Homo sapiens: one gene and its partner. The protein of the gene in region 1 purifies or fractionates together with the protein of each later gene. This does not show direct contact. Each region holds a gene or a part of one and is shown on either strand. Other genes may lie near its edges.

What was found.
Region 2: the proteins of HSPA12B (region 1) and PPM1E purify together in Homo sapiens (affinity purification with mass spectrometry; one large-scale study listed by BioGRID and IntAct). This does not show direct contact.

Annotation. Positions count from the first base shown.
Region 1 is NC_000020.11:3,735,606-3,739,427, forward strand, and holds part of HSPA12B (heat shock 70 kDa protein 12B), read left to right. Parts: intron 1-662; exon of another isoform or gene 663-735; coding exon of another isoform or gene 736-738; intron 739-785; exon of another isoform or gene 786-827; intron 828-3,052; coding exon of another isoform or gene 3,053-3,069; coding exon 3,070-3,112; intron 3,113-3,822.
Region 2 is NC_000017.11:58,758,700-58,762,521, reverse strand, and holds part of PPM1E (protein phosphatase 1E), read right to left. Parts: intron 1-3,822. UniProt on the Homo sapiens protein: Protein phosphatase that inactivates multifunctional CaM kinases such as CAMK4 and CAMK2. Dephosphorylates and inactivates PAK. May play a role in the inhibition of actin fiber stress breakdown and in morphological changes driven by TNK2/CDC42.

The DNA of each region.
Region 1 (3,822 bases):
CAGGCGTCTGCCACTACGCTTGGCTAATTTTTGTATTTTTAGTAGAGACAAGGTTTCACCATGTTGGCCAGGCTGGTCTCGAATTCCTGACCTCAGGTGATCCACCTGCCTCAGCCTCTGAAAGTGCTGGGATTACAGGAGTGAGCCACGGCGCCCGGCCCAGAGTCTTTTTTTTCTGGTGGTTCTAGGTTGTTTCTCCTCCAGATACAATAGCCTCGGTCCAGAAAATCCATTCATTCATTCAACAAAGTGGTTCCCCAGTGCTTAGCACAGAGCCTGGCATGAAGAATCTCGATAAGTGTTTGCTGAAGAATCAGAACAACATACAAATAAGGCTGCCAGCTCCTCCCTCGAGACCTTGATCCAGTAGTATGCTGGTTAATGGTTTCCAATCAGCTCTGGAAGAAGGATAAAATCCTGATTTATGGTGTTTGCCAATTTCTGTCTTGTAAATACTCCCAGCCATGACTGATTTGAAGCTACCAATGTGATGTCATTGAATGCAGAATTGGGAAGAGATAGAAAGAATCAGCTCGCATGAGCTGGTGGGACCCAGCTCAGCATCCCACTCCATCATCCTGAGCTGGGCTCTGGGCTCCTGCCCCTGGCTCCTAAGAACCCTCCCCTCCCCCTCTCTGTGCTTTCCCTTTTCTCCTCAACAGCCAGCTGCTATATGCATGCCCACAACCAGCACCCATCCTTCTTCTGATTCTGATTCCTGAGCATCCAACTCCAATGGTACAGAGGACAGCAAGAGTGTCTGGAAATCTCCATGGTGCTGGCCATGCAGGAGAATCCTGGACATACAAGAGTGTGTGGGAGTCCAGGTGTCTGTCCACAATGGGGCTGGTTTGTGTGAACTGTGTGAGCAAGGGTGTGTGCATGTGTCTATGGGCATGCCAGAGCCAGCTCTGTGTCTGCCTGTGTTCTATAGCAAAACTTTCAGATTGGGCCGCTGGTGACAGAGAAGGAATGCATTGGCCCTGCGTAGCCTCCTCCTTTGTTTAGAGGAGCAGCCAGGCCCACCAATGAGAACATAGTGTCAGTGGTCTGCAGACTGGCTGAGAGACACTGTTGAGCAACACTTCTCAAACTTCAATGTGCACCTGAATCACCTGGGAATCTTGTTAAAATAGGCCAGACGCGGTGGCTTACGCCTGTAATCCCAGCACTTTGGGAGGCTGAGACGGGCGGATCACCTGAGGCCAGGAGTTCGAGACCAGCCTGGCCAATATGGTGAAACCCCGACTCTACTAAAAATACAAAAATTAGCCAGGCATTTTTAGGTGGCATTTTAGGCAAATTAGGTGGCGCATGCCTGTGGCCCCAGCTACTTGGGAGGCTGAGGCAGGATAATCACTTGAACCCAGGAGATGGAGATTGCAGTGAGCTGAGAACTGAGATCACGCCACTGCACTCCAGCCTGGGGGACAGAGTGAGACTCTGCCTCAAAAATAAATAAATAAATAAATAAATAAATAAATAAATAAATAAATAAATATGAAATACATGTTCTGATTCAGCAGGTCTGGGCTGGGGCCTGAGGTTCTGCATTTCTAACAAGCTTCCAGGTGATACCAATGCTGCTGATCCTCAGCCCACACTTTGAGTAACAAAGCTGTTGATGGTTTGAAATATCCTGCCTATAGCCTGGCCCCAGAACTTCATAGACAGGATCGAGCCCCTCCCATCTTAGAAAATAAATATTCTTCCTCACCTCCCTTCAGCTTTAGCGCCCTCCAACTACTGCCCTCACATGTATTCCTGATTTCAGCCAAGCTTTTCAGAAATTCTAGCTCAATATGATTGCGTCACTACACTCCAGCCTGGGCAACAGAGTGAAACTCCATCTTAAGAAAAGAAGTTCTAGCTCATGTCACCTCTTGCTCACTCCTCACCTAAGCTTACCTCCCTTGGGCCACTAAAACAGTGTTTCCAGTCTCATCTGGGGACCTTTTACAGGGATCTAGCTTTACCCATCTCTTGGTACAATCTTCATGAGACCATGAGGCATCTCAGTCTCCTGGGCCGGTATATATTCCTCTGTTCAGCCTTTAAATGTAGGTTCTCCTCGTGACAGAGTGACACCCTATCTCAAAACAAACAAACAACGAAGGCCAGGCACGGTGGCTCATGCCTGTAATCCCAGCACTTTGAGAGGCCGAGGTGGGCGGATCACCTGAGGTCAGGAGTTCGAGAACAGCCTGGCCAACACGGCGAAACCCCGTCTCTACTAAAAATACAAAAATTAGCTGGGCATGGAGGCACTCACCTGTAATCCCAGCTACTGAGGAGGCTGAGGTAGGAGAATGGCTTGAACCTGGGAGGCAGAGGTTGCAGTGAGCCAAGATCGTGCCACTGCATTCCAGCCTGGGCAACAGAGTGAGACCCTGTCTCAGAAAAAAGAAAAGACAAATTGAGTCATGCCCCCACCCCACCCTGCCACCTCAAACCTTTCAAGATTTGCTGTTGCCCTTCATATAAAATCAAATCTGAAATAGGGTGCACAGGCCCTGCCTGCAGGGTAAGCCCAGCCCAGCCCTCTGTCCAGACTTACCATGTCCTCTTCCCACCCCGCATTATCCAACTTTGACCTTCCTAGCACTCAGCAACGCTTGTCATTTCAAAATCACTTGCCTGATTATCTCCTCCATCAGACCGTTGGTTTCTAGGGCAGGGACAGTGTCTCTCTGGGTCACTATCTCCCAGCACCTGGCACAGAGCAGGCACCAGAAAACATTTAGGAGGATCCTGATTCCAAGAAAGTAAAGCCATTTTTTGACACAAGCTGGGAACTGTGGGACTTTAGATGAGATTTAAGGAATTACTGTTAATTTCATTAGACATGAGAATGGTGTTGCGATGACATTGTTTAAAACGTCTTTATCTGTTGGAGAGATGTATTAAAGAGTTCACGGGTGAAACAACATGATGGCTGGGATTTGCTTCAAAGGACTCCAGCCAAAAGTAAACAAATAAAATAAATAAGCATTCAGATGAGGGAACAAAGGGACAAATAAATCCCACTCTGCTTGTCTGTTCCTGTTGACAGCTACAGGGCCTGCAAGGATGTTGGCTGTCCCGGAGATGGGCCTGCAGGGGCTGTACATCGGTAAGAACCCCCACCATTCTGCCCTGACCCATCACCCACTCACCCGAGCAGGCACTGAGACCCACCTACAGGTTGTGCAATGTACCTCTCCCACAGAGCTTCCCAACAGCTCTTCTGTGAGTGAGTGTGTGTGTGTGTGTGCATGTGTGCAGGGCAGGTCTGTGTTTACTGGACCCCCCTGTGTGTGCAGAAAGGGTCTGTGTGCACCGGTCTGTGTATGTGAGTATGTGTGCACACAGGACTGGTCTATTCACAGGACCCTCATGTGTATATGAGTGTGGGCTGAGTGCGTGTGTTTGTGTGTGCCAGAAGGGTCTGTGCACACAGGAGTGTATGCATGTGCGTGTGTTTTGTTCAGGCTCTGTCCACAGGACCCTGTGTGAGTGTGTCAGTGAGTGTGTGTCTCTGCGGGCAGGTCTCTGTGCACGGGATCTGTGTACGGGAGTATAGTCTGCAGGTGGGCATGCATACAGAGAGTTCTGCGTGTGCATGGAGGGTCTGTGTGCACAGGAGTGTTTGAATGTCCATGTGTTTTGTTCAGGCCATGTGCACAGGACCCCGTGTGAGTGCATCAGTGAGTGTGTGTCTCTGCGGGCAGGTCTCTGTGCACAGGATCTGTGTACGGGAGTATAGTCTGCAGGTGGGCACGCATGCAGAGAGTTCTGCGTGTGCATGTGCGTCTGGCCATAGCCTGGTCTGGGAGCAGGCTT
Region 2 (3,822 bases), on another chromosome or scaffold:
ACTTGCATTATCAATATTATGTTTAACTCATGATTTTGTCATAGAAACTTTTTTTTTTTGAAACAAGGTCTCACTCTGTTACCCAGGCTGGAGTGCAGTGACATGATCATGGTTCACTGCAACCTCAACCTCCTGGGCTCAAGCAGTCCTCCCATCTCAGCCTCCTGAGTAGCTGAACTAAGTTTTGTAGAGACGGGGCCTTGCCATGTTGCCCAGTCTGGTCTCGAACTCCAAGACTCAAGCAATCTGCCTGCCTCAGCCTCCCAAAGTGTTGGGATTACAGGAATGAGCCACCAAGCCCAGCCATCTTCACAGGAACTTTTAAAGCCAATTTTCCATTTCATGAGGGCTAATTTTGTTAAAACCAGGAAATATAATCCATAAATCTATTTACTCAGGCACAGATAAACTGTAATAGTTTGTAATGGCCTAAAAATTGGAGAAAGGATGCCACGGTCAACCCCCATAAGCTGTGGAATTTGCACTCCCTCAGAATACCACACTTACCATGCTTCACATGAAATCAGTCGTCATACAGAACAAGTTGCCAATCTCAATAAACATGTCAAATATTTATAGCACTTAATTTCGTATGTTATACACAAATAAACAGATGATAATGTTTTCTTCCTTTGCCGAAATGAAGTATTTTAGGTGCAATTGACTTTGGAGACCTCTGGTCTAGTGACGGAGATATAAATATTTGCTGACAAAAAATAATAAATTAAACCAAGTACTTACAAGAGGAATGGCATTGGGTATTATGGAAAGGAACGTAGAAGGGACCCCTAACTCATGATGAGTGTGAGGACGGTAAGCAAAGGCTTCCTCAAGGAAGAGGTGTTAAACAGAGAACTAAAAAACGGGTAAGAAATTGGATTGTGTTGGGAGTGGCTATTGGGGGAACATAGTATTCCAAGCAGAGGGAAAAATATACTATGTGCAAAGGTGCAGAGGCAAAAGATAACACAATACCTTCAAAGAAATACATTAGTTTAATATAGCTGAAGTGTAGTTTCTGGAGGGGTAGAGCTGGGATGAAGTGGGTGGATAGTGATTCCAGAAATAAAACTAATGAAGTAAGATTATAAGCCCTTACCTTTGGATTTTATCTAGAGGGCAAAAGAGAGATAGGTGATGAAGGATGTGGAGTAAAAAACTTGTCCAAAGAGAGGTCCAGATGTTGCCCCCAGCTCCTGGGAGGTAACCTCTAAGCCCCTGGAATTTCTGGAGTAATATGAGTATTCTTACTATTCATGATGGGTCCCTTGAACCACATAGTATCAGCCTAACCTCTGGAGAGGGGAGACTGGAAACTGAGTTCAACCATGCAAACAATCAATAAATCTCAATGAAAACTCTGCTGAGGTAAGAAGATCATTTGAGCCAGGAGTTTGAATCCAGCGTAGGGAATATAGTGAGACCCCATCTCTTTAAAAAACAAAACACAAACTCCAGACACACTAAAGTTTAGGTGAACTTCTTGGGTGGGCAATACCTTGTGTGTATTTCCATACATCCACACATTCATGCTGGGAGGGTATGGAAGGTATATTCCCTGAGAACAATGGAAGTTTCATATCTGCAACCCTCTTAGACTATACCCTAGGCATCTCTCTTCCTTTGACTAATTTGTAGCTTGTCTTTGTAATGAACTGTATCTCTAAGTATAATAGCTTTCAGTGAGTTCTATGAGTTTTTCTAGTGCATTACTGAATCTGAGGGTGGTTTGGGGAAACCCCCAAACTTGCAGTTGATGTTAGAAGTGAGGTTTTGCATAGCATCTTCATTTGAAATTTGTAGTTGCACCCTAACCCCTTACAATAGGATCAGAAGTCTTGAGCAGACTTGGCAGAGTAGAAGACTGTGCCCTTAACCTTAGAGTTTGGCTAACTCTGGGTAAAGGGTAAAAATGTTTAAGCAGTGTGACAATTAAACATTTTGGCTACACTGGGGAAAATATATTGCAGAAGGGTAAGACTGGCAAGAGATGACAATGACAGTGGGAATGAAGAAAGACATATTTAAGAGGTATTTACGAGGTAGAATTAACAAGATGTGACTGAATGTGAGAGGTGAAAGGAGAAGTCAGGGAAAGGAGAAGTCAGGGATGGACCCACCAGAAAGAGTATCAGGTTTTGGTTTTGTTTGTTTTGGGGGCCGTAAAGAGGGTTGGAGGACTGAATTCTGTTTTAGACAGTTTAATCTGAGGAAATTTTGACATCTAGGTAAAGCTGTTCTAGCAGTCAAAGAAAGGATGGAGATAGAGTTGGGAGCCTTTAGCATAACTACAATAACTGAAGTCATGTGACAGATTGATATTGACTAGGGACAAATAAGTCAACCAGACAAAAGAAGGTCAAGGACAGAACACCAATATTAAAGGGGTAGGCAGAATATTAAAAGCTCACAGAGAAGAAGTGGGATAGCCTGAGAAGCAGGAGAAAAACCTGGAAAGCATGATTAACAATGAATGGTATTTTTCCTCTTTTTGCTTATGTGAATGTTCTCCACTTCTTTATTTAATAAATGTGAACGTTTATTATTTTTGAATGAGAAAAAAATGTGCAACTTAAAAATTGGTATTATATAACATGAATCCATATATTTTTCCATTTATATATTTGTAAATTAGATAAAGTTTAATGATTTTCTGACCTAATCCAAAGTCATTAATGATTCACACAATTCAATGTAACTGAATTATTAGTGTCTATAACCAGCGATTTTCTTTTCCAAGCCATTTTTAAAGTGTCCACCCTCATTATTACTGCAAGCCATCTGGAACTACTTAACTGTGCCAGACTCTTGGGATATTGGTTTCCCCCTTGGGAAGTCCAACCCAGACTAAATGAATAACTGAGGAAACAACTGTTCTGAAAATATGATGACAATATAGCTCTAATAATGACTTTATCTTCGTTTAATAGTCTACTGGTAAAAAATGGAAAGAAAAAAGACTTCAGAATATTTGCTTCTTCTGGATTAAAACAAATATATGTTATCTCTAGTAGTGTATAGAGAAATTAAATACAAAATATTGACCCATATAAACTACACAGATAGCCTTATATTCACATCTCCTGTAAGATCAGTTATACCCTTATTTACAAATTATCTCAGTTATAAAATCTCTCACCTCCACCTTTTCAAAGGGCAGCCTCTCCTTAACCTCAGAAATTCTCAGATTGTCATTGAAATTATTTTAATCTCTTGGGGGATTTAAACTTAGAGAAAGGAGTAAAACGTAGGTAACTTTTTTTTTTGAGACAACGTCTCACTGTCACTCAGGCTGGAGTACAGTGGCTCACTGCAGCCTCGGCCTCCTGTGCTCAGGAAAGCCTCCCACTTCAGCCTCCCAAGTAGCTGGGACTACAGGTTCACACCACCATGCCCAGCTAAGTGTGTTTTTATTTTTTGTTTTATTTTGGTGGGGGAGTGGAAGGTGGGCGGACAAGGTCTTGTTCTGTCACCCAGGCTGGAATGGACAGCAGTAGGATCTTGGCTCACTGCAACCTCCGCCTCCTGGGTTCAAGCGATTCTTGTGGCTCAGCCTTTTGAGTAGCTGGGATTACAGGCATGCACCACCATGCCCGGCTAATTATTGTGTTTTTAGTAGAGACGGGGTTTTGCCATGTTGGACAAGATGGTCTCAAACAGGTGTTCCGCCCACCTCAGCCTCCCAAACTGCTAGGATTACAGGCATGAGCCACTGTGCCCGGCAAAAACTGTTTTTAAACCTGTTAAGGACCTTAAAGATACTTTACATGAACAAGCCAGCCATTTTATATCTGAATAAAAATACATTAACAACTTCTGTAC